Regions from separate parts of the Homo sapiens genome. Here region 1 is linked to region 2. The links come from fine-mapping of genetic effects on gene expression. Tissue or cell type: whole blood. Region 2 holds a variant in brackets; the other region holds the start of a gene. All regions are shown on one strand. Distances are between the middles of the regions. Region 1 holds the start of PDZD8 (PDZ domain containing 8). Region 2 has its middle 19 kb from the start of PDZD8.

Region 1 (16,225 bases), 21 kb after region 2:
AGTGAGAACCCATATGTCCACCAATTAATGAATAAACAAATTGTGTTATATTCATACAATTTAATATTATTCAGTTATAAAAAACGAGGTACTAATACATGTTACAACGTAGATGAATCTTGAAAACATTATGCTAAGTGAAAGAACAGTCACAGAATATGATATATCGTATGATTCCATTTACGTGGAATGTCAGAATAGGCAAATCCATGGAGATGGAACGTAAATTCAGCTGCCTAGGGCTGAGGGGGTTTGGAGGAAGGAAAAGGGCATGACTCTAATGCATATAAGGTTTCCTTTTGAGGTGGGGAAAATGTTCTAAAACTGATTGTAGCAATGGGTGCACAACTCTGTAAATGTACTAAAAACCACTGAACTGTACACTTTAAATGGGTGTATATATGAATTATATATCAATAAAGCTGTTATTTTAAAAAGCAAAAAAGCAAAAAGATAGGAGTCAGGGTCTTGATCTCCTTAATCCCAGGCGGTCCCTTGGCTCTTATGCATATGAGGGTATGGGCCAGCATGGCCTACTTTCTTTCCCCAGAAGGGTAAGAAGCAACTTGCCTATTCTTTTCACTCTTAAAGGTACCACCCAGGTAGGGTGGCCAACTTGTCCTAGTTTTCCTAGGACTTCTAATTTTAGCATTGAAAGTCTTGCTCCCAGAAACCCTCTCATTCTGGGGCAAACTGGAACAGTTGGTCACCCTATACCCAGAGATTTCTTCACAGATTTTCTCCAAGGCAACTTCACATCACTAGCTCTAGACACAGAAGTGGCAGGCAACTTTAGAGTGGTAATTTCTCTTGCTAACAACCAAAAAGGGGAGAATGTGTTTAAAGTTCGACCTGACTGGATACTCTTCATGGTGTCAATGAGTAGAAGGATTTCAAGAAAGAAGGAATGGCTCGTATTGTCAGATGTTCCTCAGAACTCTGATAAGAACCAAAAACATCTATTGGTTGTGGCCATATAGAAGTCGCTGGCCTTTGGCAAGATGGGGAGGTGTTCAGGCAGAAGTCAGATTATGGAGGGTTAAGGAGTAAATGGAAGGGAAGTAAGCAATCAGACAGAATTGGGTACTCTTTTTAAACAGCTTGACTCTGTGGGCAAGAAAGAGTGGAAGTCGGAAGGCTTAAGGGAAGATGGTCTCTGGATTTGTTTCGTTTTCATTTTTTAAGATGTGGAGAGTGAATCTGGTTTATGTGTTGAGGGAGAGGAGATTGACCCTGGAGGGGAGTGGAATCCATGGCACAAGTAGGGGGATTATCAGGGTTACCCTTGGACAAAAAAGTTTTTGCTTTGTTTTTTGGTTGTTTTTTGCCACAGAAGAGAAGCATGAAAACATGGGAGTGTCATGCAGGTGAGCTTGGACCAGGGAAGCAAGCAGCGGAGGAAAGCCCAGCCTAAGGGCCTCTTTTTTTCTCCCTGAAGTGGGAGGAGGGTCCTCCCCTGAGCATGATGAAAGAGCTGAGCCTGGTCAAGGTTTGATGGCATTGTTATGGGACATGGAAGAAGATGCTGGTAATGGAGAAAAAATGGATAAATGTGGTAGTGGAGAAAAATGTCTGGGTTTCCTTGAGGGCCTTAATAAGAACGAAGACCATAAATTTATAATGTAGAGGGGAGGAGGTAGATAGTTGGATTCATTTAGGGTTGAGGTTTTGCAGGTGGAGATGGAAGGAAAAGTGTTAATGCCATTCTCTAGCTTAAAGACCTTTGAAGACTTCACAAAAACTGCAAAATAGAATAAAAACTTGCCCTGACATTTAATCTCTCCATAATTTAGTTTGTGTCTACTTTATTATGCTACCTCCATCTCCCTTCTCTCCTTGATGCACCAACCTATTCGTACTACCTTCTTCCAGTCATCCTGGTCTCAATTTCCCCAAACTGGCGGGTTTCCATCTTCTGAGTTTTTGTCTCCTTCTGATTAGAATGCCCTTCTAATCATTAAATGCCAATGCAAATTCCATTTGCCCCAAAAGCCTCCCACCTTCCCCAGCAAGAATTAATCTCTTATCCCCTATTGAGCTAGTATTGCCCATCATGTCTTCTCAATCCTCTCCCAGTCCTTGAAGAAGTTGCCCCACCCACCAGCAGCCCAGAAGAGGCAAGCTCCTTGGTCATAAATTATTGGAGTAGCACAGCCAATTGGAGATTTCTCTCCCAGGATTTGAGATTGAGCTTGCAGGCTACCTTAGCCATCAGAGACATAGGACCCTCTAGATCTGGATAGAGAGCTGGTGCCTCCCAAAGTGCCTGTGTGCTGAGGGTAATGGGGAAGTAGAAACCAAGAGCCTTCTGGAGTAAAATGGCACAGACCTGCAGGGAGATGCAGAAATAAGATACTGGGTAGGGGTGGGGGCAGAGGAAATGAGAGTGAGAGACAGTTTTCTTACTCTAGGATTTCTATGAACATCTTGCAGCTGAGTTCCTGGAGATATTCCAGCATCCTTAACGTGAATCCAATTTTAGTTGTAAGTTAGCCTGAGGTAGTTGCTGTTCCTTGCAATCAATTGTCACTGCCCCTGAACCAGAAGGCTCTGCTCCCATAGTACCTTGCATGTGCCTCTATTAGAGCACTATCTCCTATCATCAGAGTTATGCAGATGTGTGTCTGCTTCCACCTGGGGCGCAGCGCCCCTGTTCATTCAGTATCCCTGGAGCCTAGTACTTGTTGGATGCTCAAAAAATAGTTGTGGAATTTGAATTCTCCCAGTTCACAAAATGGTTTGTTGATGTATCATTTGTTAGGCAAACCTTATAAACTCTATGTTTCCCACCATATTTCACTATATTTGCATTATTTTACATCTTTCAAAAAATCAAATTTGCTTTCATGCTACTCACAAACTTTGCACATTTACGTGGTTTGGCTTTCTCATTATTTTTCGCGGTCACCAGGAATGATTCATAGTCAAGCAGTGGTCCATGCATCCCTCTAGTTGGTGAGAATGTCTTATATGCAACCCATCTTCCAGTATTCAACTGACTTCGACCTTGAAATGGATATTTCCATGAAGGCTGTTGGGGCAGCTTAATTTCAATGATGTCATTTAAAACACATTAAAAAGTCAGCAGGGAGGCTAAGCACAACTGCTTCCTTTAAAAACCTATTCAGAATCATCGATCTTCAGAGCTGGGGCCAGTGGTTCTCAGGCTTTTGAGTTTCTATGAACCAGCATTAATATAAGAAAAAAAGGGAGGGGTTGCTGAATTTATCCTTTTCCAGAAAATAGCATTAAAACAAATTCGTCTCTATTAACATAGTATAATTTCATAAAATAAAGGGCATGCTAACACCAATATTATCCAGAGCATTATCTCCTAACTTATCAAACACAGTCAAGTGTGGCTTAACAACAGACATAAGTTGTGAATCTTTAGGCAGTTTCATCATTGTGCGAACATCAGAGTGTCCTTACACAAACCTAGATGGGAAACCCTACTACATACCTGGGCCATATTGTATAGCCTATTGTTCCTAGGCTACAAATCTATACAGCACGTTGCTGTACTGAATACTGTAGGCAACCATAACACAATGGTATCTGTGTATCAAAACATCTCTAAACACAGAAATGGCATAGTAAAAATACGGTACTATAATCCTATGGGGCCACCATCCTATAGGCAGTCTGTCGTTAACAAGAACATCCTTCTATGGTGCATGACTGCATATTTGACTTTACAAAAACTCATGATATTTTGATTTCTAAATAATGTTTGAAATATTTAAATATTTCTAAATAACATGCTTAACACTGTGCTTGGCACATGGTCAGTTCTCTGTATTATTATTATTAGTGTTTAATCAATGTTGGTCATGTTTCACACAAGGGAGAATACTTTTTTCTTCCCAAAAGGTTTGCTGAGCTCTTTCATGGATTTGAAGTGTGTCCCTAAGGGGTCAAGTTTTGCTGGGGAATGCAATGACTCTGACTCTGTAAAACAAACTGAGAAGATTTAAGATTCTCACAGGTATTCTGAGGAGCGCAGAAGTGAGAGGAGAAGAGAAAAGAAAGGAGTCTGCAAGATGAAGACTGAGGACTCATTCCCATGAAGACCACAAACTTTCATTGTTGAGGAGGGAGGTGGGTGAAGAATATTTTGCAACTCGGGATGGATCAATATACAGTTTGAGGGTTTTATATTTCAGGAATGTGAATAACTTCTTTCATGCCACCCTACTTCCAGCTTCTGTAACATTTATAATATGCAATGTGCATGAATGTTATGAATAGGTTTACGGTGGAAATCATAGAAGGGTCTACATTTCTCATTTGAGTTGAAACAGTGTAGATCCCAGAGAGCAGCCCAGAAGCAGAGGCCAGGAACCAAAGGGGACCAGAGAACAGAAGTTGCCAAGATCTCCGAAAAATCTCGGCCATGGTTTGAGCATGGTTCCTCAGCAGACACCTATCTTATGTCTTCATAGTAATGAAAGCCATTCTGGTTTCGTATCTGGGCATGATTCGGTAAGGCATGATAAGCCTGGTTCCGAAGTTCTGTACCTGTCCCAGCTGGGTCAGGTCTATTTTTGTGGTAGAATCACCTACAGTTAAGAGAATCCTTGGCTTGGAGGTTTTCTTCTTTTTTTTTTGAGACAGGGTCTTGCACTGTCGCCCAGGCTGGGGTGCAATGGCGTGATCTTGGCTCACTGCAACCCCCGCCTACCGGGTTCAAGTGATTCTCCTGCCTCAGCCTCCTGAGTAGCTGGGACTACAGGCGCGCACCACCACGACCGGTTAATTTTTGTATTTTTAGTATAGACGGGTTTCACCATGTTGGCCAGGCTGGTCTCGATCTCTTGACCTCGTGATCTGCCCGCCTCGGCCTCCCAAAGTGCTGGGATTACAGGCGTGAGCCACCACGCCCGGCCGGCTTGAAGGTTTTCAAGGGCTAGAGAGGAGCCCTGCCCTGGCTCCTTAGGTACAGCCAGAATCGGCCTTTAAGGTATGGGATATCTGACTCCTGCAGGACTGGAACTCCACGTGCTTGGAGGGATAAGCATTTATGATGTAACCACTAAGTAGTCAGAGGGCAGGAGGAGTAACGCTGTTGCTGGGCAACCTGGCTTAGCTTCGTGGCTTTGGTTAAGGTGCTACTCTATGCAAAATTCCTTGCCGTCTTCCCTAATCCGCCTCCCCAATTCTCCCTTCCTGAACATTAGGGAACCCACTGGCCTGCTTACAACTGAAGCAGTTTCTGTGTTAGGGCAGAGAGTAGTGATCAAGACATTAGGGTTTAGTGTTAGATAAACCAGGCTCCACTCTGCGGCCCCACGCAACCTCCCCACGCTCTCTGCACCAGTGTTGGCATCTGTCAAGTGGGTGGGGGCTAACAGTGAATAACTGCCTCATAGATGGACTACCGGCTTAACCAGAGACTGACAGCGGGTCGCATATTAATCTTCCAATCACTTGGCAAACTCGTTTCACTATGCATCTCTCCTCCTGGCTGTTCTTTCAACTTCCTCCTCCCTGAAATTTCGAAGATCCACCTCGGTGGGAAAGTCATTCCGCGTGGCGCGCCCTTTCCCTGCGTCCCTCCTTCCCAGGGCCCACCCTCCGCGGACGCAGAGCGTCTGCCGGGGGGACGGCAGGTCCGCGATGGCTGCCTCTGAGGCAGTCGGTCCCCTCTCGCCGTGGGCTTGGGAAGCGTCCGAAAGGCCCGCTCGGATCGTCTGCGGTGCTGCCCGCAGGGAAAGCGCCGCTGCCAGCCGGGCTGTCACGGGTGCGAGTGGAAGAAGCACACCGCAGGATGAGCGACGCCGCTGCAGAGGTAACCGCGGGGACTGCGGCCAGAGACGGGGGATGGGCGCAGCCGAGGATAACGGGATGGCCGGCATCCGGAACGCGTCAGGCCCGCTCCGCCGGACCGCCTTATCCTCCAGCCCGCGTCCCCAGCCGTCCTCCCAGATCCCGACCGCAGCTCCAGAAGTGACGGCCACGTGGGTGGCGGCGCGCGCCGCGGGGATTGGAATGTTGGCGTGGGGGGACGAGGTTGGAAGGGCCGCAGAGAAGTAAAGGAGGACCCGCGTCCGCGTGCCCGGGCGCCGACTGCTGGGCGACGCCGCCGGGAGCGAGCACGCCTCTGACGTCACGCGCTGCTCGTCCAATGAGTGGAGGCCTGAGGGAGGCGCCGGTCCCGGCCCCGCTGCCGCCGCCGCCACACCGGCCCTTCGGGAGCGTCTGAGGAGGCGCGGGCCGCTGCGGGCTCGGGCGCCGCAGCGCGCCGGCCCGAGCCCCTGGACGAGGCCCACGGAGCCGCTCGCCCCGACCCAGCCGCCCGATGTCCTCAAAATGGAGGCAGCGGGGGCGGCGGCGTGAAGAAAGCGGCGCTGTGGGCGCGGGAGTAGGGGCCCGGGCGGAGGCGGTGGCGGGATGGGGCTGCTGCTCATGATCCTGGCGTCGGCCGTGCTGGGTTCCTTCCTCACGCTCCTCGCCCAGTTCTTCCTGCTGTACCGCAGACAGCCCGAGCCGCCGGCGGACGAGGCCGCCCGCGCGGGCGAGGGCTTCCGCTACATCAAGCCAGTGCCGGGCCTGCTCCTAAGGGAGTACCTTTATGGCGGCGGCCGGGATGAGGAGCCCTCCGGAGCGGCCCCTGAGGGCGGCGCGACCCCCACCGCGGCCCCCGAGACCCCCGCCCCGCCGACGCGGGAGACTTGCTACTTCCTCAACGCCACCATCCTATTCCTGTTCCGGGAGTTGCGGGACACCGCGCTGACCCGCCGCTGGGTCACCAAGAAGATCAAGGTGGAGTTCGAGGAGCTGCTGCAGACCAAGACGGCCGGGCGCCTGCTGGAGGGGCTGAGCCTGCGGGACGTGTTCCTGGGCGAGACGGTGCCCTTCATCAAGACCATCCGGCTCGTGCGGCCAGTCGTGCCCTCGGCCACCGGGGAGCCCGATGGCCCTGAAGGGGAGGCGCTGCCCGCCGCCTGCCCCGAGGAGCTGGCCTTCGAGGCGGAGGTGGAGTACAACGGGGGCTTCCACCTGGCCATCGACGTGGACCTGGTCTTCGGCAAGTCCGCCTACTTGTTTGTCAAGCTGTCCCGCGTGGTGGGAAGGCTGCGCTTGGTCTTTACGCGCGTGCCCTTCACCCACTGGTTCTTCTCCTTCGTGGAAGACCCGCTGATCGACTTCGAGGTGCGCTCCCAGTTTGAAGGGCGGCCCATGCCCCAGCTCACCTCCATCATCGTCAACCAGCTCAAGAAGATCATCAAGCGCAAGCACACCCTACCGAATTACAAGATCAGGTGAGCTGGAGGTCGGGGAGGGGGCCTGGCTGCCGGGAACCCGGGCCTGGGCGGGACGCTGCGTGGATTGGGAAGGGCAAAGGCTCATTTCTGTCCTGGCGCCTGCTTCTGGGGCCTTCCCACCCTGGACAGGGCCCCAGATCAAGGCGAGTCGTGAACACTTGCTTTGCTTCCGAACGGCATTGATAGGAGCTAGAAACCTTTTCGCGTGTTCATGGGGACTCAGGGTGCTGTCAACGCGGGCAGAATCGTCTCCTTTTATAAGCAGCATATTGGAAATGGAAGGGAAGCCTACCCTAATCCCCAGGAGTCGCTTCTGGGACTGTTGAGAAACTCTCCCTCTATGTGGTTGCTGCATTGAGGGCAGCCGCGTCACTGGCTTTGCAGCATCCCCTTGGCCGCTTTGAGAAATTGTTCCTGGACACAGTACACGCGTGAAGAGTGTGCTTATAGCCCAGGTCTGTGCTAATTTGACATTGCAAGCCACTTTTGCTTTGATGGTTTGACACCTTTCAAGGCAGAGGTGGTAACTCTTGCAAAGGAATACTTTTGTGGGTTTTTTTTGTTTTTGTTTTTGAGACAGAGTCTTGCTGTGTCGCCCAGGCTGGAGTACAGTGGCGCGATCTCGGCTTACTGCAACCTCTGCCTCCCAGGTTCGAGCGATTCTCCTGCCTCAGCCTCCCAGGTAGCTGGGGTTACAGGCGTATGGCACCACGCCTTGCTGATTTTTTTTTTTTTTTTTTTTTTTTTTGTATTTTTTAGTAGAGACGGAGTTTCACCGTATTGGCCAGGCTGGTTTCGAACTCCTGACCTCAAGTAATCCGCCTGCCTCGGCCTCCCAAAGTGTTAGGATTACAGGAGTGAACCACCGCGCCCGGCCCGGGAATACTTTCCACAGCAGATGGGAAAGGAGTTGGGAGCCTGTACATAGTGTACTTTACATTTTGTATTAATGTCATTTGCCCATTTTGGGTAGATTGTAGAACACAGATCCAGACTCTGCCCATCAAGCATTTACTCTCTGTGACTGTAAGTTCTTCTCTCAAGGGACCTGAAGTCACTGTACAAATTGTATTTTAATGCTAGGTAGTGATTTTAATTTTGTTTAAGCCTTCCAGCATCTGATGGCTTAAATTTTGTGGTATACAGTTTTGAGTAGTATATAAATTTTGTTTTAATATTGTAGGAGTGGAAGGGGAAAGACTTTTTTAGGGCTAGAGGTGGAGTGGAAGGTGCTTTTTCTTTTGTAAAAAGCTGAATTTTTAACTTCTCTTTCGGTCCTCCTTTAATTTTGTATTCACTAAGACATTTGAGCCTTTAAAATTTTGCCCTTTATTATAAAATTATGTCAGTCTTGTATTTTACTTACCTAATTTTACTTGCCTTTTAGTGGAAGTTGCCTATTTCTGGATCACTAATTTTCTACCAGTGTCAATTTTCAGGAGCAAGATAATCCAGAAATATTTTGGGTTTGGAATGGATTATTGACTTCTGTATGTGGCAGATGTACCTTACCAATTATGTTTTGTTTAGGCTAACAGCGCAGAGTGACAGTTTAAAACTTGCGTGGCAGGAGAAATTTACTTTGTAATGGAAATATTTCCATAGATTTGCGGAGGGTGGTGAACTGGTTGTTCACTGTGTTCGATTTCTGGTTCTGTGAAGTAGAACATACTTTATGAAACCTACTTTTAACCTCTGGAATATCAGTGATTAAATTATAACTCGGTTCTAGTGTTTAAGCAGTGAGAGATGTTTATTTATAGCAGTGTGTTGCCAAAAAAGTCATGAGAAAAAGTTGCTAGAAATTTTGGTATTCTATCACAACTTCAATTATGATGTTTTCTGATAGCTTTCAGTTAATACAATTTGACTAGATTATTATTTTGAAATTTGTAGACTAGCCAATGACAGTGAGATTACATATCATTTTGAGATTTTTTTTTTAATGTAGACTTGGAATTTAGGTAAATCTGAAGTAAGTTATGAATAAGTTATGGAGGCATTGAGAAGTTTATTACTTTGAAAAACTATTATCTGTATCATTGAATAACAACCATTTAAAAGTATGGCAAAATTGCTTTTCACTTTGAAGGGATTTTTTTAAAAACAGCATGAATTTGGTTATGATATTTCAACTTCTAAATGTGAAGCATTAAATGATCATTTCCAGAAGTATGCACATCTGTGCTATTTATACTGGATGGCATCTCAATGCTCAGTCAGCTGCACAGAGCATATCACTCAATCTGTAAATGTTTATTGTACACCTGCTATATGCTTATCCTTGTTGTAGATGCTGGGATTTCAGTACTGAACAATACTTGAACTCAGCCCTCAGGAAGCTTAGAGTCTAGTGAGAATTGAATTAGCTATACTTAGTAATTTTTTTGTGTTTTTCGTTTGTTTGTTGAGACAGGATTTTGTTCGGTTGCCCAGAGCTGGAGTACAGTGTCAGGATCATGGCTCACGGCAGCTTCGACCTCCTGGGCTCAAGCAATCCTCCCATCTCAACCTTCCAAGTAGTTAGGACCACAGGTGTGTGCCACCACTCCTGGCTAATTAAAAAAAAATTTTTTTTGTAGAGATAGGTCTTGCTTTGTTGCCCAGGCTAGTCTGGAACTCCTGGGTTCATTCAAGTGATCCTCCCACCTCAGCCTCCCAAAGTGCTGGGATTACAGGTGTGAGCCACCTTGCCCGGCGCTTTGTAAGATTTAAACTAGAATGGGATTGATGGGGTTGAAGTAGCCAGGAAGCCGGTTTTAGCTTAGTAGAAGAAAATAGCAAGTATGACGATGAAAAGGGCTGCCTCAGCAAGTGATGACTTCTTGTCTGTGTAGCTGTTCTGTCCAGTGTTTTAAACTGGTGATGGGCCAGGTGCAGTGGTTCACGCCTGTGATCCCAGCACTTTGTAAGGCTGAGACAGGCGGATTACTTAAGGTCAGGAGTGTGAGACCAGCCTGGCCAACCTGATGAAACCCCGTCTCTAGTAAAAATGCAAAAATTAGCTGGGCGTGGTGGCGGGCGCCTGTAATCCCAGCTACTCTGGAGGCTGAGGCAGGAAAATGGCTTGTACCTGGGAGGCAGAGGTTGCAGCCAGCCGATATCGCACCACTGCACTCCAGCCTGGGCGACAGGGTGAGACTCCGTCTCCAAAATAAATAAGTAAATAAATAAATAAACAAACTGGTGATGATGTGGGACTGATTCAAGTTTCAGATAAGAATGAATTACAATACATCTAAGATATAGCATACTTCTCACAGGGAAAATTAAACTAGCTAGTGTTCATCTTTTTTTACAGATGAGGAAATGGAGCTCGGAGTAGTTAAATAACTTGCTTAAAGTCACACAGCTTTCAAGTGTTGAAACGCAGCTCTGATAAGGCCAGGCCACCTTTAAACACACACACACACACACACACACACACACACACAAACTATGTTGTTCTTAAGTGATTTATTTTTTAAAAGCATGCCATCGATATAGTAAATATGTGGGATATCTTTCCAAACTAACCTAGAACTCTTGAGAAGAGTATGACTATAAAGCTGATTTTTTTTTCTTAAATTGGTCATTTTAGAGGATCCTTTTAAAAGTAAATCATGAGGCTAAATCTTTGGGTACTGTCCCACGTGGCATTTCTTTTTTAATTGAGCAGAATTGTGTTTCCAAATAGAAGAGACAGGTTTCACCATGTTGGCCAGGCTGGTTTCGAACTCCTGACTTCAGGCAGTCTACCCACCTCGGCCTCCCAAAGTGCTGGGGTTACATGTGTGAGCCGCTGTGCCCGGCCTAGTTTATTCTTTTTTAGCTATCTAATCTTCTTAGTAGAGCTAAAGCAGTAAAGAGAATTGTATGGAGTCTTACGATCCTTTGGCATTTGTAATCATTACATAACAAATATCTTGCCAGTTAACGTTGTTATTACTTCTTTCCCCCTTCATTTATTTTGCCTTTTTCGTGTTGCTAAAGTGAATCAGCCTCTCTGGACTGCCAGTTCCTGATGTTTCACCTAGAGATGCTAAGTTGCTCAAGTGGTTGCTTTCTAAGGACCCAGCTGACTGACATTTCATTTTACCCAAGTTAACAAACTTACAATGTTTGTAAAACATTTTATTTTACAAAATGAATTATAATATGTAGACAATATGTTTACAGATTTATTCAAGTTAGGAATTTCATTCATCCACCTCAATGTTAATTGGTTTGATTTTTTAATTAAAATAGTATATTATAATAGCAATATATTTTTTTAAATGAACCTCAGAATCCATCCTCAAGGGAGAAAGATTACCACTAATGTTCTTTTACTACGTGGATAATTCATCTTAAACATGGAGTCTGAGTAATAGTGTCTGGGTGGGGAGCTCTGTTTAGGGTTTAGGAGTCAAATATTTGAGATTCTTACGGATGCTTGTGTTCCTGGAGTATTATTGTATATAGACAAGCAGATTCAGTTTGCAGGTACTTTTAATTTGGCCTGCACTGTTTAAAAAATGGAAAATTCTGTGTGTTTTGGATTTGTGGCTTCTGTTAGGAAAAATTGGAATATCTTGTAGCGCCAGTGCTGCATTTCTCAGAGCAACAACAGGATGGAGAGATGGACTGTAGTAGCAGCTTTGGGGTTGAAACTCGGTGTGTAAGCTCCTAGGTGGAGTTTATAGTCCCCCCTTATTTGCTGTGCTTAATTGATGGTACTTGCCTGGCTTGGAGTTATATGAATTTGAGACCCGTACTGGAGGAGTAAATAGGGAGCATTACTGTTGCTGATTAGTGAAAATGAGAAGACTTAATAGCTGGAGTGGAGAGGGAGAGTGATCATTTTTATCCTTCTTTTAATTACATTTTTGAAGGGACTGTCATAGAGCAATTTTATTTTTTAAAAGACATTGTTGGCCAGGTGCGGTGGCTCACTCCTGTAATCCCAGCACTTTGGGAGGGCAAGGCAGGCGGATCACTTGAGGTCAGGAGTTCGAGACCAGCCTGGTCAACATGGCGAAACCCCATCTTTACTAAAAATACAAAAATTAGCTGGGCATGGTGGCACATGCCTGTAATTCCAGTTACTCAGGAGGCTGAGGCAGGAGAATCGCTTGAACCCGAGAGGCAGAGATTGCTGCAAGCCGAGATCATACCACTGCACTCCAGCCTGGGCAACAGAGCAAGACTCTATCTCAAAAAGTAAAAATAAATAAATAAATAAATAAAAGACATTGTCAGGCCTGGCGTGGTGGCTGATGCCTGTAATCTCAGCACTTTGGGAGGCCAAGGTGGGTGGATCACTTGAGGTCAGGAGTTCGAGACCAGCCTGGCCAACATGGTGAAACCCCGCTTCTACTAAAAATGGCACGCACCTGCAGTCCCAGCTGCTGGGGATGCTGAGGCATGAGAATTGCTTGAACCCAGGAGGCGGAGGTTGCAGTGAGCCAAGATTGCGCCACTGTATTCCAGTCTGGGCAACAGAGTGAGACTGTCTCAAAAAAAAAAAAAAAAAAAAAAAACATTGTCAATATAATGTTGAATTTTAAAAAGTCACTCTGCCAGAAAAAAAAAAATGCCTTGAAATGCAATCCATTTTTCTACCATGTAGTGATGGTAAGTAGATAGTGTCTCCTTTTTGTTCGAGTTTGGTGGATAGTTTGCTTTAGTGGAATGGGTCATTAATAACTATGTAAGCATTTACTTCACTGATCTCCAAAAAGGGGGGCATCAACTTATTGACAGTATATTTGAATTTAATGAATTGAGTGATCCGTATCTCAAAATCTTTCAAAGTAAATTCACAGAAAACTGACAAAATCATTTGTAAAGTCAAGTGTAATATGTTGTATTTATTTACTTTTTCATACTTTTTTCCTTTCTATTACATTGGAAAATATTTTAAAATAGCTACTAAAATTCCTTGATGGTTATAATAGTGACAGTTTTACTTACTAATGTTGATAGGAAATCTAACCTTTAATATTTGGGGAGAATAGACAATGGCATTGTGCATTACTCTAGCTATGCTGGAATAATCTTGTAATAGCTAATTTTTAACCTGTTGTGCTTTTTCTTGTACTGTTGCTCATATCTCTATATCTCGTCATATCTCTGTATAAGTTGAATTGCAAGATCATTGTCTTAGAGATGAATAATTATGTCATTTAAAAAATAGTCATTTATCTTCAGTAAGTGCTTAGTGCATACTACCTAGTGTTGCGGTGGGTATAGTAAACGTGATAAAAATGGTTATAAACTAGTTCATGCTATTATAGGGTTAGTCTTTCTAGGGAAAACAAAGAACACATAAAGCTTATTTTAGTGGCATTGGAAATATTTAAGCCCTTCAGTTTTGTGAGAAACTGGAACAGGAGAGATCAATATCTCTGCTCTGCTAAGGCAAACACCTGATTACTGTGGTACCGTATGTAATGCATTGTGACCTTAGCTTTTTTTTTTTTCCTCTCTCGTTGCCCAGGCTGGAGTGCAGGTGCATGATCTCGGCTCACTGCAACCTCCGCCTCCCAGGTTCAAGCAGTTCTCCTGCCTCAGCCTCCCACAGGCGTGTGCCACAATGCCCAGCTAATTTTTTTATTTTTAGTAGAGATGGGGTTTTGCCATGTTGGGCAGGCTGGTCTTGAACTTCTGACTTCAGGTGCTCTGTCTGCCTCGGCCTCCCAAAGTGCTGGGATTACAGGCATGAGCCACCACATTAGCTTTCTTAGCACACCTAAGTGTACTCCACCTAAATACCCAGTTTAGTGCTGATTTTACTTCTTGCACATTGGATTTCCTCCAGCTGCTTTGAATTATTTTAATTTCAGCTTTTAAAACACTTTAGATGGAGAATAATGTATTGATACATTACATCTTTGCTCTAGAAATTTGATTTATTCATTGAGGGGAGAATAGTCATTTTGAGGAGGCTATAATTTTTGTTTGTTTGTTTGTTTGTTTGTTTTGAGACGGAGTCTCACTCTTGCCCAGGCTGGAGTGCGGTGGCGCTATATTGGCTCACTGCAACCTCCACCTCCCGGGTTCAAGCAGTTCTCCTGCCTCAGCCTCCCAAGTAGCTAAGATTGTAGGCGTATGCCACCACACCCGGCTAATTTTCACATATTTAGTACAGACAGGGTTTCACCATGTTGGCCAGGCTGGTCTCCAACTCCTGGATTCTAGTGATCCCCCCGCCTCAGCCTCCCAAAATGCTGGGATTACAGGTGTGATTCACACCCTGCCGGGAGGCTATAAATTCAAATCAGTAATGTACAAGTATATTGGCTATCCCAAAAAGCCACAGTTTCTTCCTGGAAATAGCCAAAGCAGATCATTATAAAGTAGATTGTGTTGAAGGAGCATGCCTGATCAAATACTAAACGTTGACTTACAAGTATTACTAACAATCTATCATATGAGCAGGGTGGGGCTAATAAAACACTGTTTGCTAAGTATTCATTAGGCACTGTGTGGGCATTTCCATGCAGTTGCAATCTCAATAGTTAAAACTCCTATGTGGGAGAGGTTGGTATCTCAGTTTTACAGATGTGGAAATATGCGATTTACGGAGGATTAGTGATATAAAGTCCTAAATGTAAAAGGTCCTGGACTTCCAGAGCTCATGCTCTATTATTTCTTCAGAGATAAACCAACTGTTACTCTAAATCAGGGGTCTGCAAACTAGCTGCTGTTAGGCCCCTGCATTAAGAATGGTTTTTACATTCTTAAACTTTATATTTGACGTTGTTAAAAGAAGTACTGGTGGTGGTGGTGGTGGTGGTAATGGTGGTGACAGTGGTGGTGGTGGTAGTGGTGGTGGTAGTGACAGACCTTATGTACCCACAAATACTATCTGGCCTTTTACAGAAAAGATTCACTGATCCCTGCTCTAAACTTTAAAAAAAAACCCTAAAAATACACCCCCCTCAACAGTTACAATGTTTACCAAAAAAGAAGCTATATATGTGTACATTGAAAGTACTTTTAAGTCTTTGAGGGTCCTGTCCTTTGGAAACCTGCAGAAAATTTCTGCAGAAAACAAATTTTCTGCATAAAAATATTTCATTTAAGTTCATAGTTCCCTTGAAGCTTTTTTAGGGTCCTTAGACTTTAGGTTGAAAAATAAACACAAACAGAAGTATACAACTTTGTTACCGTAAACATAACTAAAACTAACATGCTGAAATCAATATTAACCACTTCATTATTTTGCTTACCTTCTTAAAATGTATATAGGATTCATATGGCTCAGGCGTTTCTAAAAATGCTGGAGGAGGGGGTAATCCCTCTCTCTATCCTATGAAGTGTATGTCTTTTTGATTCTTTTTTTTTTCCTCTTAAGATTTCATATAGCAGGCTGAGGGACTCTAGATCAATAGTTCAGTAAGAATATATGAAATTTCAAGTTAGAGTTCTTATTACTAAATACCTTGTTTAAAAGTTAAATACTGACTCAACATTTCTTCCCATGATATTCTCTGTTTTCTCAGAACAGTGTCACCAGGAAACAAGTATTATTAAATGACTTTGTTCTTACCTCAGAGTCATAGGACGTACTGACACTTTTTTGGCATGGCATCAGAGCACATCACACTTAATTGGAAAGTTTTAAAGCCAACTACCTGGTCATTAGCAGGTGTTTTACAGAGTAGTTTCAAAATCTCTCTTGCCAAATTGCTAAGACTGGCATAAAACTGTACACTTCCTGTATTTGTACTAGGGAAAAATGTGATATGCACGTTAATTATTTACCTTTAGATGAGCAGTACTAATTTTACTAGATATATATCAGATATTTTCTAGGTGACACATTATATTCTTTTCCCTTTCAAATGAGCGACAAACTCACTTTAAAAATTCAAGCTGTTAGAAAATATGTAGTATCAAAGTGAAAATCTTCTGTAATATCTTTTCTTAAAACTATTGTTAAATTCGGGAACTATTCTTCCATATTTTTCTAAATGTATTATAATTTGCTA
Region 2 (16,225 bases):
CAATCCTCCTGCCTCAGCCTCCCAAGAGTGTGCTCTTCTACCCACAGGAGTTCATATATACCAAATGTATCCAATTCATTCACTTAACACACTTTGAATTCCTGGACCTGGAGTTATAGAGACAGGTAAGATTATAGTCCTTGCCCTCAAGGAGCACAATCTAGTTGGAGTGACAGGCATATTAGCAAATTTAAGGAAATGGTAGAGTGACAGAGGCAAGGGTAGGAATATGTACTGAGAACAGTGAGGTCCAAAGGAAGCGATGTTCAGAATGCCTGGGGAGAGGACAGAACATATTCAATAATAAAGAAGGGGCTGGGCGTGGTGGCTCATGCCTGTAATCCCAGCACTTTGCGAGGCCAAGGCAGATGGTTCACCTGAGGTCAGGAGTTTGAGACCAGCTTGACTAATATGGTGAAACCCTGTCTCTACTAAAAAATACAAAAATTAGCCAGGTGTGGTGGCATATATCTGTAATCCCAGCTACTTGTGAGGCTGAGACAGGAGAATTGCTTGAACCCGGGAGGCAAAGGTTGCAGTGAGCTGAGATCATGCCACTGCACTCCACCCTGGGTGACAGAGCCATACTCTATCTCAAAAAAAAAAAAAAAAGCATGGTACTGCTAGAAGTATGAACGTAGAGATCAACAGAATAGAATTGAAAGTTCAGAAACAAAACCTCACATTTATGGCCAATTGATTTTTGAAATGATACCAAGACAATTCAATAAAGAAAAGCAGTCTTTTCAACAAATGGTTCTGGGACAACTGAACACCCACATGCAAAAGAATAAAGTTGAACCCCTCTCTCACACCATACACAAAAATTAATTTGAAATGTGTTACAGATCTAAATGTATGAGTTAAAACTATAAAATTCCTAGAAGAAAACAGAAGAAAATCTTTGGTCACCTGGGGTTAGGTAATGGCTTCTTAGGTATGACACCAAAAGCACAAGCAACAGAAGAAAAAAAAATAGATAAATTTGAATTTATCAAGATTAAAAACATTGGCCAGACGCAGTGGTTCACACCTGTAATCCCAGTACTTTGTGAGGCCAAGGCAGGCAGATAACTTGAGCCCAGGAGTTTGAGACCAGTCTGGGCAACATGGTGAAATCCCATCTCCACAAAAATACAAAACATTAGCTGGGCACGGTGGCACACACCTGTAGTCCCAGCTACTTGGGAGGCTGAGGTGGGAGCATCACTTGAGCCTGGGAGGTCAAGGCTACAGTGAGCTATGATCATGCCACTTCATTCCAGCCTGGGCAACAGAGTGAGACCCTATGTCATAAAAATAAATAAATAAATAAATAAAACATTTATGCCTCAAAGAACACTATCAAAGTAGGAAATGAAAACTTACAAAATTGGAGAAAATATTTGCAAACATATATCTGAGAAAGAAATTGTACCTAGAATTTATAAGGAACCCGTGCAACTTAGTAATAAAAAGATAAATAGCCCAATTTAAAAATGAGCAAAAGATTTGAAAACACGTTTATCCAAAGAAAAGCATCATTAGACTTTAAGGAAATACACATCAAAACCACAATCGAATACTACCTCACATCCATTAGGATGGTTAAAATCAAGACAAGTGATGGCAAACAAATGGAGAAATTGGAATCCTCATACTCTCTGGTGGGAAAGTAAAATGGTACAGCTACTTTGAAAAAAAGTTTAGCAGTTTCTCAAAAGGTTAAACATAGAGCTATCATAAAGTCATATGATCCAGGGTTTATACTTCTTGGTATATACCCAAGAGAAATGAAAACCTACATCCACACTAAAAATTGTACACAAATATTCATAGCAGTATTATTCATAATAGACAAAAAGTTGAAGCAACCTAAACACTTAACAGATGAAAGCATAAACAAATTATATATCCATATAATGGAATATTATTTGACCATAAGAAAAATCAAGTACTGATAACTGCTACAACCAGATGAACCTTGAAACATTATGCAAAGTGCAAGAAGCCAGTAACAAAAGACCATATATTGTTTGACTCCTTTCACATGAAATATTCAAATTAAGTAAATCCTTAGAGACAGAAGGTGATTTGTGGTTGCTGGGTTGGGAAGAAATAGGGCGTGATTGCTGATGGATATGGGTTTCTCTTTAGGGCGTTGAAAATGTTCTAAAGTTAGATTGTAGTAATGGTGACACGACTCTGAATATATTAAAAACTAATGAACTGTACACTTTAAATGGGTGAATTTTAAGGTATGTGAAAAATATCTCAGTAAAGCTATTTAAAATCTCATTAATCTTGGTTTTTTGTTTTGTTTTGTTTGGAGACAGTTGCTTGCTGTGTTGCCCAGGCTGGAGTGCAGTGGTGTGATCTCGGCTCACTGAAACCTCCACCTCCTGGGTTCAAGCAATTCTCATGCCTCAGCCTCCCCAGTAGCTGGGACTACAGATACACATCACCACTCCCGGCTAATTTTTTTTTTTTTTTTTTTTTTTTGTGTGTGTATTTCAGTAGAGGCAGTGTTTCATCATGTTGCCCAGGATACTGGTCTCTAACTCCTGAGCTCAGGCAATCTGCCCACCTTGGCCTCCCAAAGTGCTAGGATTACAGGTGTGAGCCACCATGTCCAGCCCTAAAATCTCATTAATCATAAAGATACTGAAAAATCATAGAGATACTGTCAATATTTTTGTAACACTTCAACATGTTTTCCCATCTTATGACTCAAGGCCCTGAAGGCACTTTTTTTTTTAAACATACAGTAACCTTGCAAAGATCATTGGTCTTCAAAAGATGAAGTAAGTCAACATTTTGCAATTAGAGGGAAGAGGTAGTCCATGGTTCAGTGGTCAGGTTTTTACCCAACAGGAAAGGTAGGCCTGCAAATGTTGCTTTACACTTTGTAACTGAAAATTTAACACACGCTTATTAAATGTTTACATGGTGCTAAAAAGACTTATTTGTCTTTTGGGGGAAACTGAAGGGTGCACAGAAGAAAGATGGTCAGCTAGGGGTCCCACGGAATTTTTCTTTGCTAATGTTGACTATCTGATTCCTTTGGATGTATGGTGGAAGAGAGCAAAGGGCTGGTATGCCATGGTGGTTACACAGTCACAATCTGGACGTGGCTGGCTTGGAATACTGCCCCTGCCACTTAGCAGCTGTATGACCGTGTGCAAGCCAGTTAGCCTCTCTGTGCCTCCATTTCCTTCTCTATAAAATGAGAATTCTACACTTCCTTCAGTTTTTATCGGAGGGCTTAGGCTGTTGTATTGTGCTCATAAATGGTACCTTTATGTGTAGACATTTTATGAGCAGTATATCTTGATGATTTCTTTCATGACTTAGAAAAACAAAAGTGTTGGCATTTTCTGAAGATCAGGATCTTATCCTTTTCTATTAGTTGTTTCATTCTGATATGTTTATTATTAAGTTATTTGTCAAAGTACTCTCCTGAAACTCTGCTATTAGGTAATTAAGAATTAAGACACTTAGGCCAGGCATGGTGGCTCACACCTGTAATCCCAGCACTTTGGGAGGCCAAGGCGGGCAGATCACCTGAAATTGGGAGTTCGAGACCAGCCTGGCTAACATCGAGAAACCCCATCTCTACTAAAAATACTAAATCAGCTGGGCATGGTGCCGTGCGCCTGTAATCCCAGCTACATGGGAGGCTGAGGCAGGAGAATTGCTTGAACCCGGGAAGCAGAGATTGCGGTGAGCCGAGATCACGCCATTGCATTCCAGCCTAGGCAACAAGAGCAAAACTCCATCTCAAAAAAAAAAAAGAATTAAGACACTTGATTGCTATGTATTTTCTTAACCAATGTGACTCTACTTTTCCTTAGCAAAAGTGTACAGAGTGCAGGCTCAGAATGAGATGCCCAGCTGCTGAACCTCATTCTTCTGATGTGTGGCGGGCAGAAAGGGCCAATGTAGGCAAGAAGTCTCTCAGTTCAAAACCACCTTCTAAGGCCCCCTTCATCCCAGGGCTTCTTTGGGGACTACGCAGAAGTGCTTATTTGCAATGCAAATACCCCAGATGACCTATCAATCAGTCAATTATCCAGGGTATTCCTTTCCATATTGCCCTCAGACCTGGGAAAGAGAAGGGTGACCCCATAATATCACACACACACTGATATGGTTTGGCTCTGTGTCCCCACCCAAATCGCAGGCCAAATTGTAATCCCCACATGTTGGAGGAGGGGTCTGGTGGGAGGTGATTGGATCATGGGGGCAGACTTCCCCCTTGCTGTTCTCATGATAGTATATGAGTTCTCATGAGATCTTGTTGCTTTAAAAGTGTGTAGCGCTTCCCCTTTATTCTTTCTGTCTCCTGCTAGGCCATGGTAACACATGCTTGTTTCCGCTTCACCTTCCGCTATGATGGTAAGTTCCTGAGGCCTTCCAGCCATGCTTCCTGTACAGCCTGCAGAACTGTGAGTCAATTAGACCTCTTGGTAGTTCCTTATAGAAGCATGAGAACAGACTAATACACACACATACACACTTCTTAAAGAACATGTGTGTTCCTTTGTCACATGGGACCTGGTGCTCAGCACTGGCATATCACTACCCCTAATCCTAAACATCTGCTCCTGGCACCAACGCTGCTCAAGCCCTAGGGAACACTTTTCCATATTTCTTACCTTTTATCCTCAAAACAAAGGCTACCTGTCCTGAAGGTCATAAAGGTTTTTGGGTTGCTGCTGCCAACATCAGAGATGGACACAGCTTCAGAGGGCAGAGAGCATTTTAGTGGTAGGGACCATTAGGAAGAGAAAAAGCAAATTAATTAACTTGTCAATTTCTTCCTCCCAGAGAGCATGAATAAAACAGATTTTTGTTTCGCATAGTATCATTCCCTGTCATGCTGAGCTTTTCTTTTCATTTTATTTCTTTCATTTGTGGTTCCTAAACTCTTCATGAATTACACGAATCACATAATAAAATGTCACCATGTGGTTAGGCTGTAGTAGAACCATCACGTATCAACTATCCATAACCCAATGTCATGATTGACATCTTGAAGATATGATTTGTAATTTTAGGCATGAAATAAGTGCATGTAGTACTGATTATTTGTATTGGCAACTAAGTTAAAACGGTGAATGCTAGAATACTGAATAGTTTATTTTTGTAAAAGTATTTATTATGATTTAACTCCACTGTTAAAATTTTAAACAAAAAATGTAACTTTACTGAAATAATTTCATCTATAATTTTTACACTCATTAATTTATAATTTCTACTTTGCCTTTTTTTTTTTTTTTTTTTTTTTTGAGACGGAGTCTCGCTCTGTTGCTCAGGCTGAAGTGCAATCTCACGATCTCGGCTCACTGCAACTTCCGCCTCCTGGGTTCAAGAGATTCTCCTGCCTCAGCTTCCCAATTAGCTGGGATTACAGGCACCTGCCACCATGCCTGGCTAATTTTTGTATTTTTAGTAGAGCCAGGGTTTCACCATGCTGGCCAGGCTGGTTTTGGACTCTTGACATCAGGTGAACCATCGCCCGCCTCAGCCTCCCAAAGTGCTGGGATTACAGGCATGAGCCACCTCGCCTAACCCTTTTTTTTTTTTTGGAAATGGAGTCTCACTCTGTAGCCAGGCTGGAATGCAGTGGCACGATCTTGGCTCACTGCAACCTCCGCCTCCTGGGTTCAAGTGATTCTCCTGCCTCAGGCTCCTGAGTAGCTGCAACTACAGGCACACGCCACCACGCCCAGCTAATTTTTGTATTTTTAGTAGTGGCAGGGTTTCGCCATGTTGGCCAGAATGGTCTCAATCTCTTGAGATTCGCCCACCTCAGCCTCCCAAAGTGCTAGGATTACAGGCATGAGCCACCATGCCCGACCCTCTACTTTGCCTTTTAATGTAAATATTTTTCATGCTTTAAAAATTTTTTTCAAAAATATTCAACTTTAACTATTACATTTACTTTCATTTTACATTTTTGATGGAAATATATTAAAATTTGATACTTTTTGAATATAATTTTATGTTTTAATCTTTTGGATCATATCAATGGAATGTAAATTATTTGCATACTTTAATTGCAATTAGATAATTAGTTTTTTTCTTGCTGTGAAAGAAAAAAAATTTATGAAATATGTAATGACTCATGATATATGTCTTTATTTTATCACTCATTCAAATATTTCTGGGCCATCAATAGCACGTACACAGTAATACCTGAATTCAGTTATTCTTGATATTTTGTAGACTTTCAGTCAGATAAAAACTATAGTTTTCCAACTTAAAAAGAAAATTTCCATTATGAAGTCGTATTTGTCAATGTAGGGGGAGAAAAAATGTATTTTGCAGCTTGATTTATAATTTTCTATTTTGTTATTATTATTTTTTTTAATTTTTTTTTTTAGAGACAGAGTCTCACTGTTACCCAGGCTGCAGTGCAGTGGTGTGCAATCATAGCAGCCTCAAACTTCTGGGCCCAAGCAATCCTCCTACTTCAGTGTCCCAAGTAACTAAAACTACAGGCATGAGCCAACAGGCCCAGCTAATTTTTGTTGTTGTTGTTGTTGTTTTAATAGAGATAGGGTTCCTATGTTGCCAAGGCTGGCCTCAAGCTCCTTAGCTCAAGCAATCCTCCTGCCTCAGTCTCCCAAATAGCTGGGACTACAACGCA[T/C]GCCACTTAGTTATAATTTTAAATATTTAGACCATTTGTACTCTAGCCCTGGCCCCACATATGTTGAAGATGAGCCTGACTGCTATAATCAGATGATCAGATAGAGTTTTTTAAAAATTTAACTAATAATAGCTAACTTATTGACACTAAATATGTGCCAGGCCCTGTGTTAAGTACTTTCTACATATTATGCCATTAAATCCTCCCAATAACCCTATGTCATTATTCCCACTTTATTTATTTATTTATTTTTAGCTTTTATTTTAGGTTCTGGGGTATATGTGCAGGTTTGTTATACAGGTAAATTGCATGTCACAGGGGTTTGGTGTACAGATTATTTCATCACCCAGGTAGCATATTGCCCAGGGAATAAGCATAGGTAGTTTTTTTATCCTCACCTTGCTCCCACCCTCCACCCTCAAGTAGGCTGTGTTGTCTATTGTTACCTTCATTGTGTCCATGTGTACTCAATCTTTATCTCCCACTTGTGATAGTTTATCTCCCACATGTGAGTACATATGGTATTTGGTTTTCTGTTCCTGCACTAATTCGCATAGGATAATGACCTCCAGCTCCATGATCTTAATCTATTTTATGACTATGTAGTATTCCATGGCATATATGTACCACATTTTCTTTATCCAGTCTACTACCATTGATGGGCATTTAGGTTGATTCCATGTCTTTGCCATTGTGAATAGTGTTGTGATGAACATACATATGCCTGTGCCTTTGTGGTAGAACAATTTCTATCCCTTTGGGTACACACCCAATAATGGGATTGCTGAGTTGAATGGTAGTTCTAAGTTCTTTGAGAAATCGCCAAACTGCTTTCCACAATGGCTGAACTAATTTTCATTCCCATCAGCAGTGTATAAACGTTTCCTTTTCTCTACAACCTCACCAGCATCTGTTATTTTTTTGACTTTTTAGTAATTGCCATTCTGACGGGTATGAGATGGTATCTCACTGTGGTTTTGATTTGCATTTCTCTAATGATTGGTGATGTTGAGCATTTTTAATATGCTTATTGGTTACATGTATCTCTTCTTTGGAGAAGTGTCAGTTCATATCCTTTGCCCATTTTTTAATGGTATCCCCACTTTATGGAGAGGAACCAGAAACCTGGAGAGTTTCCATGACTGGCTCGTGGTCACACAACCCCTAAGTCCTGGAGCTGGGATTTGATCCCAGGAGGCCTGAGTAACTTTGGGAAAAGGCACTTTGAGAGAGGTGACCTTGATGGGCATCCCTGTGGGGAACTTGGACACATGATCGCAACTGGGAGGGTCCAGGTGCTGGGAGGAAGAGTGGCAAGGAGAAGGCCTCCTGATTCCAGTCTGACTAGAGATCTGATGTCACCCAAGCACCAAAAGCTACCAAGTGTCTGAATGGGTAGGGAGAAGTGCCAGTTTTTACCAATTCTTCATGTTCTTCTGATTTCAGCAATGGATGAGTAAGAAAAATATTCCATTTACTTTTATTACTTTGAATTCTCATTCTCAGTCATTGAACAGGTAAATTCAAAGGGCTGATTCCTTCTTTCCTTCTTTATCCCTCCCTCCATCTTTCTTTCTCCTTCTTTCTCTCCCTGTTTTCTTTTCTCCCTCTCTTTCTTTCTTCAATCACATATATATTGAGCTCCTATTATGTACTAAGCACTCTGCTAGGTAATAAAAAAAAGACAGTGCCTCATCATTATGGGGTTCCCTACGTAGTAGGAAGACAGAGGGCAAACCAACATGAAAATCCTAAAAATTACAACCATGGTGAATGCCATACAGGAGAGATGGAGAATGCTAGGAAGGTGTGTATGTGCTAGGGGAATCTGGCCCAGTCTCAGAGTGTCAGGGAAGACTTCCCTGGAAACCTGTCATTGGATCCAGGTGGTAAGTAAGGTTAACCATACACAGATTTGGGAGAATAGCCAAGCTGAGAAAATAGCTTGGATAGAGGCCCCATGAGGAGAGGGAGCCTATGGGTGGGAATACGAAGATTCTGAGAGAAGGCCAGTGAGGCTGGATGTGTGTTTGGATGAAAGGTTCCGACCATTCCTGACCAGGGGTCAACAAATTATGGCCCATGGGCTGAATTCAGCTACAATGATAGAGCTGAGTAGTTGCAACAGAGACATTATGACCCACAAAGGTGGGAAGAAATTCAGAATGCTGTCTAGAAAATGTATTGTCTGCCTTTTATAGAAAAAGTTTGCAGCCAGGGGCAGTGTTTCACACCTGCAATCCTAGCACTTTGCGAGGCCAAGGTGGGAAGATCATTTGAGCTCAGGAGTTTGAGACCAGCCTGGGCAATATAGAGAGACTTCATCTCTCCTGAAAAATTAAAAATAAAAAAAAATTAACTGGGCTTGTTGGCATGAGCCTGTAGTCCCAGCTACTCAGGAGGCTGAGATGGGAGGATGACTTGAGCCTGGGAGGTCGAGGCTGCAGCGAGCTGTGATCACGCCACTGCACTCCAAACCTGAGCAACAGAATGAGATCCTGTCTCAAAAAAAATTTAAAAAGAAGATAAAAGAAAAAAAAAAGTAGATTTTTTTTTTTTAATAAAAAGTTTTCAGACCTCTGAACCAGATGGTGGAGGTCAGACCTTGCAGGCCCATTGATGATTGTGATCTTTGTCTTAACAGCTACGGGAAACCATCAGAGTGTTTTAAGACTGAAGGAGACAGGGAATAACAGGATCAGATTTCATTAGGCACATTCAGGAGTTGAATATATACTTACATTGTAAGGATATCCCAGGCCAGGCCAGTCCTTCCAAAGATCCCTATAAGGGAATTGTGGCATTAATCTCCTCATAAATGGGTTCTAAGTCTTTCTTGCCTGTGGCAAGTGGTCACAGTCAGTTTCTTCCTACCTAAGCCCCTATTTTGGTCAAAATCAATTGGGAGCAAATAACAGAAGCACAATATAAACCAGCTATACAGCAGGAAGAAAATGTGTTGGTTCACATAGCTGGGAAGGGCAGTAGGTGACTCAGAGAAGCCAAAAAAGAGCAACAGAAAAAAGAGTCCATAGCCCTTGGCTCAGGAACTCACCGCATAGAGAACCATCTCTCCATTTGCCTCTCATCTTTGCTTAATCCTGCTTGGCTTCCTGCACAAACAGACATGCTCCACTGAGTGACCTCAGGTTCATGTTCTCCCAGTTTAGGCACCCCAGCAGAAAGAGAGTGTCTCTTTCCCTAAGCCTGTACATTCATCTTGGGGTTAGATTGTGAGTGGCCCTGCTCAGTCACATGCCCACCTTCTCTAGAACAATCATTGTTGTCAGAGGGATCAGGTGCTATAAATTGGCCAGACCTGGGACATGTGCCTATCCTTAAGGCCAAGGGGTGGGCCTGGAATTGAGAACTTCAGAACAGCCTAGAAGGGAAGAGGGGAGTTTTCAAAAGAAAGGAATGTTGGCCCAGCGCGGTGGCTCACACCTGTAATCCCAGCACGTTGGGAGGCCGAGCCGGGCAGATCACTTGAGGTCAGGAGTTTGAGACCAGTCTGGCCAACAAGGTGAAACCCCATCTCTACCAAAAATTGCAAAACTTGGTGGCGGCCGCCTGTAGTCCCGGTTACTCGGGAGACTGAAGCAAGAGAATCGCTTGAACCCAGGAGGTGGAGGCTGCAGTGGGCCAAGATCGTGCCACTGCACTCCAGCCTGGGTGACAGAGTGAGACTCTATCTCAAAAAAGAAAGGAAGGAAGGGAAGGGAAGGGGAAAAGAAAAGAGAAGAGAAGAAAAAAGAAAAGAAAAGCAAAGTTAGGCAGACAAAAGAATCTAAGCAACCCATGCCTGTGGTATCTGCCAGGCTGGTATGCACAAGCTTTACAGGAGAAGCCAGTTCCGCTGTCCTGGCAACAGCTGACCAGACCAGAGATCAGTCTCGGGAAGAGCTTACAACACACATGTGCCAGACACGAGGGTGGCTGATCAGCTCTGAGGTGACTCCACACAAAGGTCCAGCGGGGGGCCCTCCTCTGAGTGGCAGCAAGTTAACCAATCAAACCTTCTCACTTGCAAATATAAATGATAAGTCAGCAAAAGTGGAGCTTGATGTTGGCAGCAATACTCAGAATCTCATCCAGGTTTCTATGTAGCTCACTCTCCATCCTGTTCCTGTATAAACAGGAACCCACCCAGTAAACCTCCTTGGCTGAAGGAAAGCCAGGACTGTCTTTTCCTCCTAAAGAATTTGCCTGTATTGATCAGTACAATCTGATGCCCTGGGAATTTCTTCCCCTGCCATTTACAGGGAAAATGTTTCCATGCTGAATTTCATACAGCAGGAAATGAGCTACTCTTATGGCAAGGAATGATATGATTACAACAGGGATTTCCTCATTGGGAGGGAATTCAAGCACTTCAGTAGGTGGCTGGGGAGATTTAACCACAGACTTTTTGGGGAGGAGGCTGAAGTGAAAGCTAAGTACAATAAACATGGTAACCCACTGTGGCAGGGCTGGAGTCCTGGGTTCAAGTCCCTGCTGGGGGACCCTGGGCAAGTCACCTCTCCTCTGTCCTCTGGAAGTGAAGTTTTAAAATCATTCATCCATTCTACAAAGATGTGTGGCAAGGGGCGGTGTGGTGCAGAGTGAATGCAGCAGAAAGCCGGAGACACAACTGCAGACAGAGGTAACGGGGACCCAGACATTTGGAGCCTTGGACTTCCCTATGAAGACTTTGGTTTTTACATCGCATGAGATGGGGAAGTGTGTTAGTTTCTTGCAGTTGCTATAACAAATGACCACAAACTTAGTGGCTTAAAACAAACAAGTTTATTATCTTATAATTCTGGAGGTCTAAAGTCAGACCTCTAGCAGGTCTGACTGGACTGAAATCAAGATGTTGGCAGAGCTGCCTCACTTTCTGGAAGTTCTAGGGGATAATCCATTTTCTTGCCTTTCTAGCCCTTAGAGCTGTCTGCATTCCTTACTCTTAGTTCCCTTCCATCTTCAAAGCCAGCAGTGGCAGTTTGAATCGTTCTCCCATTGCATCAGTCTGACTTTCTCTTTTGTCTCTCTCTTCCACTTTTAAGGACCTTTGTGATTACATTGGGTCCAGTTGGATAATTCAGAATAATCTCTTTATCTGAAGATCAGGTGATTAGCAACCTTAATTCCTCCCACAACAGTAACGCCCCTTTGCCACGTAACGTAATATATCCACAGGTTTTGGGGATTAGGATGTGGACAACTTTGGGGGCCATTATTCTGGGCCCCCCCACAAGAAACCACTGGTACGTTTCAAACAGTTGAGTGGCATGATCCGACTTGTGGTTTACCATGGTCACTGTGGTGTCTGTGTTGAAACAGACATTAGGGTAGCAAAGGCCAGAGAGACCTTTAAGTAGAGAGGCCAACTAAGAGACCACTCCAATAATCAGGCCAAATATGGTGCTTGAACCATGATAGTGAATGCGGTGAGAAGTGGTGAAACTCTGAATATATTTTGAGGGTAAAACCAATAGGATGTGTTGCAAGTGTGAATGCAGATAAGAGAGAAAGGAGTCAAGGATAGCACAAGGCTTTTGGCCTGAGCAACTGGAATGACAGAGGTACCATTGATAAATATGGCGGGAAATGCCCAAGGAACTCTCATGGGATGGATATTCGCTCAGTCTTACACACAGTAAGTCATCTCACACCAAGGTGGAGATGGCTGGTAGGCTGTTGGATATATGGGTTTCCTAGAGGAGCTCAGAGTGAGTAAATGCATTTGGAAGCATACACATATGAATAGCATTTAAAGGTAGGAGGCTGGATGAGATCACCTAAGGACTGAATGAAAGTAGAGATGAGGTGAATATGCTCTTGGGCCCCAAAAGTTACACTGATCTCCACACAGTAGATTTAGATCCACTGGCAGTCTCAAGGACTTGCCATCTCCAAGCATGTTGCTGCTGCAGCAATGTTATTCTCTTCCAGAGTTACTTACCTTCCCTGGCTTTGCCAGAGGAGCAGAGCCAGCAGTGATCCCTCCTCTCCCAGCATGATAGGACGTTCTGGTGTCAGTGTTGGCTCCCCTCTACAAAGCCTCTTCCTTCAAACAAGTGGTCTTAGGGCTTCAGGAGAAGGTGGCTCTTTCTCACCAAAGTGGAGAGTAGGTCATGTAAATTCATTCACTTAATAAATACCAGTTGAGTACTTACTATGGGCGAGGCCCTGTGCTGAGTGCTGGGAAACTGTGGTTTACAAGACACACATTGTACAAGTGATGATAGTAAAGTGTGGTGAATACTGTGTCAGGAGTGTATTTGGCTGCTAGTAACAGAGACCTGTAATAGTAGTTTGACAGCTTAAGGGGAATTTTTTTATGTAAAAAAAAAGTTCCAAGGTGGGTATTGCAAAGTTGAGTTCAGCTTCAGTGTCATCAGTGTTCTGAGCTTATTCTGTCTTTCTGCTCAACCATCTTCAGTGTGTGGCATCTATCCTCAAGGTTACCACATGATTATAAAGTGGCCACTGAAGTTCCAGCCATCACATCTGAATTCCAGGCCAGGGGAGGGAGAGGGAAGTACAAAAGAGATATGGAGATAATAAATCAAAATCCTTTGTTGAGCTCCCACCCAAAAATTTTGCTTATATCTCATTGGCCACTCTTATCTGCAAGGCTGGTTGGGAAATGTCATTTTTAAAATCTGAACAATTTGCTGTTCCCAAATTCTTCTTTGAAATGAGTGAATGGATATGGACGAAGCAAGTAGCAGTCTCTGCCATAAGCACCAGGATGAGGGAACATATATTGGATGTTATATGAGGATATAGCAAGGGATAAGCCTTGGTTAGGGCCAGGGGAGTCTCCTAAAGAGGAAGATTTCAGTCTACACTTTAAGGGTAGGGTTACCTGCAAAGAGAAGAGGCAGAGAGTTTCAGGTGGAAGAAGCAGCATGTGCAAAGGCCTGGAGATACCAGAAAGAAGTCAGCACAGGAGGAAGCACAAGAGCTCAGGCAGGCTGGAGCAAACTCTGTGACGGGGAAAGGGGAAAGTGAAGGGATGGATTGTGAAAGGCCTGAAGGATGTTACTGGGAACTAGTACTTCATCCTTAAGCCTAAGGGCAGCTGTAGAAAAACTTTAAGGAGGAATCAGCTTAATGTGTCCTGAGGGCAGAGTAGAGAATAAAGTAAGGCGAGGAAAGCCGAAGGTAGGTAGACCAATTAGGAGGCAATGGCAGGATTAAAGCAAGAGATAACAATGGCCCAGACTGGGGTATTTCAGGGGATGGAGAGAAGTGGACTGGCTTGCACAACAATTTACGAGGAATATAAATGCTGATTTAAGGCCTCGGCTATCTAAAAACGGTTTGATTATTGTTGTCCCAGGAAGGGGACCCATCAAAATGACCTTCTGCGAAGCCTCACAACTCCAGGGTTTAGTTCAGGTTCTGAATTGTAGTGAAGGAGAATGGAAATTAGCAAACAGCCTCAAATGAAAGATAAGCAGTTTTGAGACTGGTAAGTAACAGTATTAAAGTGTAAAGCAGATAGAATTTACAGCTATTGTTAGACTCTCCTGAAAGTGTTATTAGAGTCAGTTTTTCACTTCCATTGAGAAAGAGAAAATAACCAATATTTTGTGAAGCGAGCATGGAAAAAGTATGAGGACAAGATGAAAAAGAGACACCAGGAGTTAGGACCCCAGGATTATGATCCGGGCTGTGATACTGTCTTGCTGGGTAGCTTGAGAGAGGCCACAGCATCTCTCTGGGTTTCCTTGCCAAGATCATCCCCATTCTCTGGGTTAGTGTCCATGTGCAGGTGATAGGTCTGCTCCTCCTACATTGTCTTTGATAAGGGAACCCTCAACTTCCTACTCAGTTGCAAAATCTCAGTTGCCTTTGAATCCTTCTTCTCTATCCACTTTATTCCCAGCCAAATTCTATTGATTCTTCCTCTAAAATGTTTCTTATATCCAACCTACTGCCACTGCCTTAATCTGGGCTCTGTGAAAATAAGTAATTTGAAATCCGAGCTGTTGGAACTTTAAGTTATTTTGAGCCTTAAAGGAATGTGATTATGGGGTCTGAGCCATGTGACAGGCAGCTGTAAGGTAGGCAGCTGTAACCTTCGTTTTTCTGATTATAGATTAGCCTTCTTCCTTACCTATGTTATTTCATAAAATGTTGCAAATGACCCAAGAGTGCCAGGGAATACCTCTTCCCTCTTCTCTGTTGATCATCATTATAGATTAACTTCCTTCTTCCCTCTCACACAAAGATTTTATGATTATCTCATTGTCTTGAGATGGAATGTTAAATATACTCTTTTAAATTGGAGAGGAAATAAAAACAAGCCATATGGAAAAGAAAACAAACTGTAAGTAACCAAATTTTTGCAACTCATAAACCAGCCTTATGTACAAAATGTTGTAATCCTACTAATTTCTTTGTTTTCTACCTGTATAAGCAAGACTTTAACTTGTAACTTTGGAGCACTGATCCCATTCCTTTGGAGTCTGTGTTACCTGAATGGCTATTCTCAGCTTTGTTCTTGAATAGACTCTTTAAAACTGGATTCACATCCTTTCTGTTATTTCAGGTTGATAGCCCTGATTAACTCTTACCTGGATTCTAGCAAAGATTCCACATGAGTCTCATTCCCCTTCAATACAGACTTCCCTTGCAGTCTACTACCAGTTATATCATAAAACAGATCTTACTTTTCCATCCATTCACCCATCCATCCACCCATACGTATATACATTTCTCCATCCGTCCTATGAGCATACTCCCTAGAAGGTACTGAGGCTGGAATATAGAGATAAGAAACCCCCCGACTTTGCTCCTGAGGAGCTCACAAATAGACTTGTGGTTCATAGCAACTAACAGGGAACCTCAGAATATTGTAAAGACTGTTATTTCCTAAGTGCATTCAGGGTGCACTGAGTACAATGAAGAAGCTCATTATCCAGACTTAGAGGAGTTCAGGAGGGAAGGAGCTCTGGGCAATCAGGGAAAGCTTCCTGGTGGAGGTGACACTCAAATTCAATCTTGAAAAAGGCCAAGTAAGAGTTGTTTGGGAAATAGGCAGGGGGATGGGTGACCAAAGGCTGTTGTGGTAGGAAGAAACAGCATTCATTCGTGTGCCCACAAATACCTATGAAGTACCCACTATGTGCTAGGCAAGAATGGCAAGAATAAGGAAGATAAGACAGATCTTTGTGTGTTGGAGAGAGGGGCTGCAAATGAGTCCTTTGGCTGATAAGCAGGACCAGGATTAGGGTGAGGGGAGTGAGGCATTCACCTTGGGCACAAAATTTAAGAGGGCACCAAAAAACTCAGTCATCAAGATAAAGCATATTTAAGGCAACATCTTAAATACTTAAATAAAAATAAGAAATCCATGAAAAATATAGACAGGATCTGATGGCACCATGTCAGGAAATATTGGAGCCTGAGACAAAAGGAAAAATGTGCACTCCTTTATGCATTTTAATGGTTTATTTTTTCAGAACATTAAAGTAGTTGACAATATATTGAAAATTTAAAAGTTGGTATATTCACATTATTTTAAAGTTAAATATTTTATTTGTACCAAAACCAGAGTTTATTATAATTTCACTTTCCTAACTTTATTGGAAGCAA

The links. PIP is the estimated chance that this variant, and not a neighbour inherited with it, causes the effect.
Region 1: it holds the start of PDZD8, and the variant in region 2 is fine-mapped to the expression of PDZD8 in whole blood (INTERVAL, PIP above 0.99).

The regions. Positions count from the first base shown.
Region 1 is chr10:117,365,396-117,381,620 of GRCh38, reverse strand. It overlaps PDZD8 (PDZ domain containing 8), which reads left to right and starts at 6,181. Exons shown (of 5, transcript NM_173791.5): 1 at 6,181-7,265. The coding sequence starts at 6,394. RefSeq lists an enhancer at 5,741-5,860 and silencers at 6,091-6,410, 6,511-6,690.
Region 2 is chr10:117,386,393-117,402,617 of GRCh38, reverse strand. No RefSeq gene overlaps it. Among named protein-coding and RNA genes, the nearest start is that of PDZD8, 19 kb to the right of the region's middle. The variant T/C (reference allele first, on the strand shown) is at 6,635.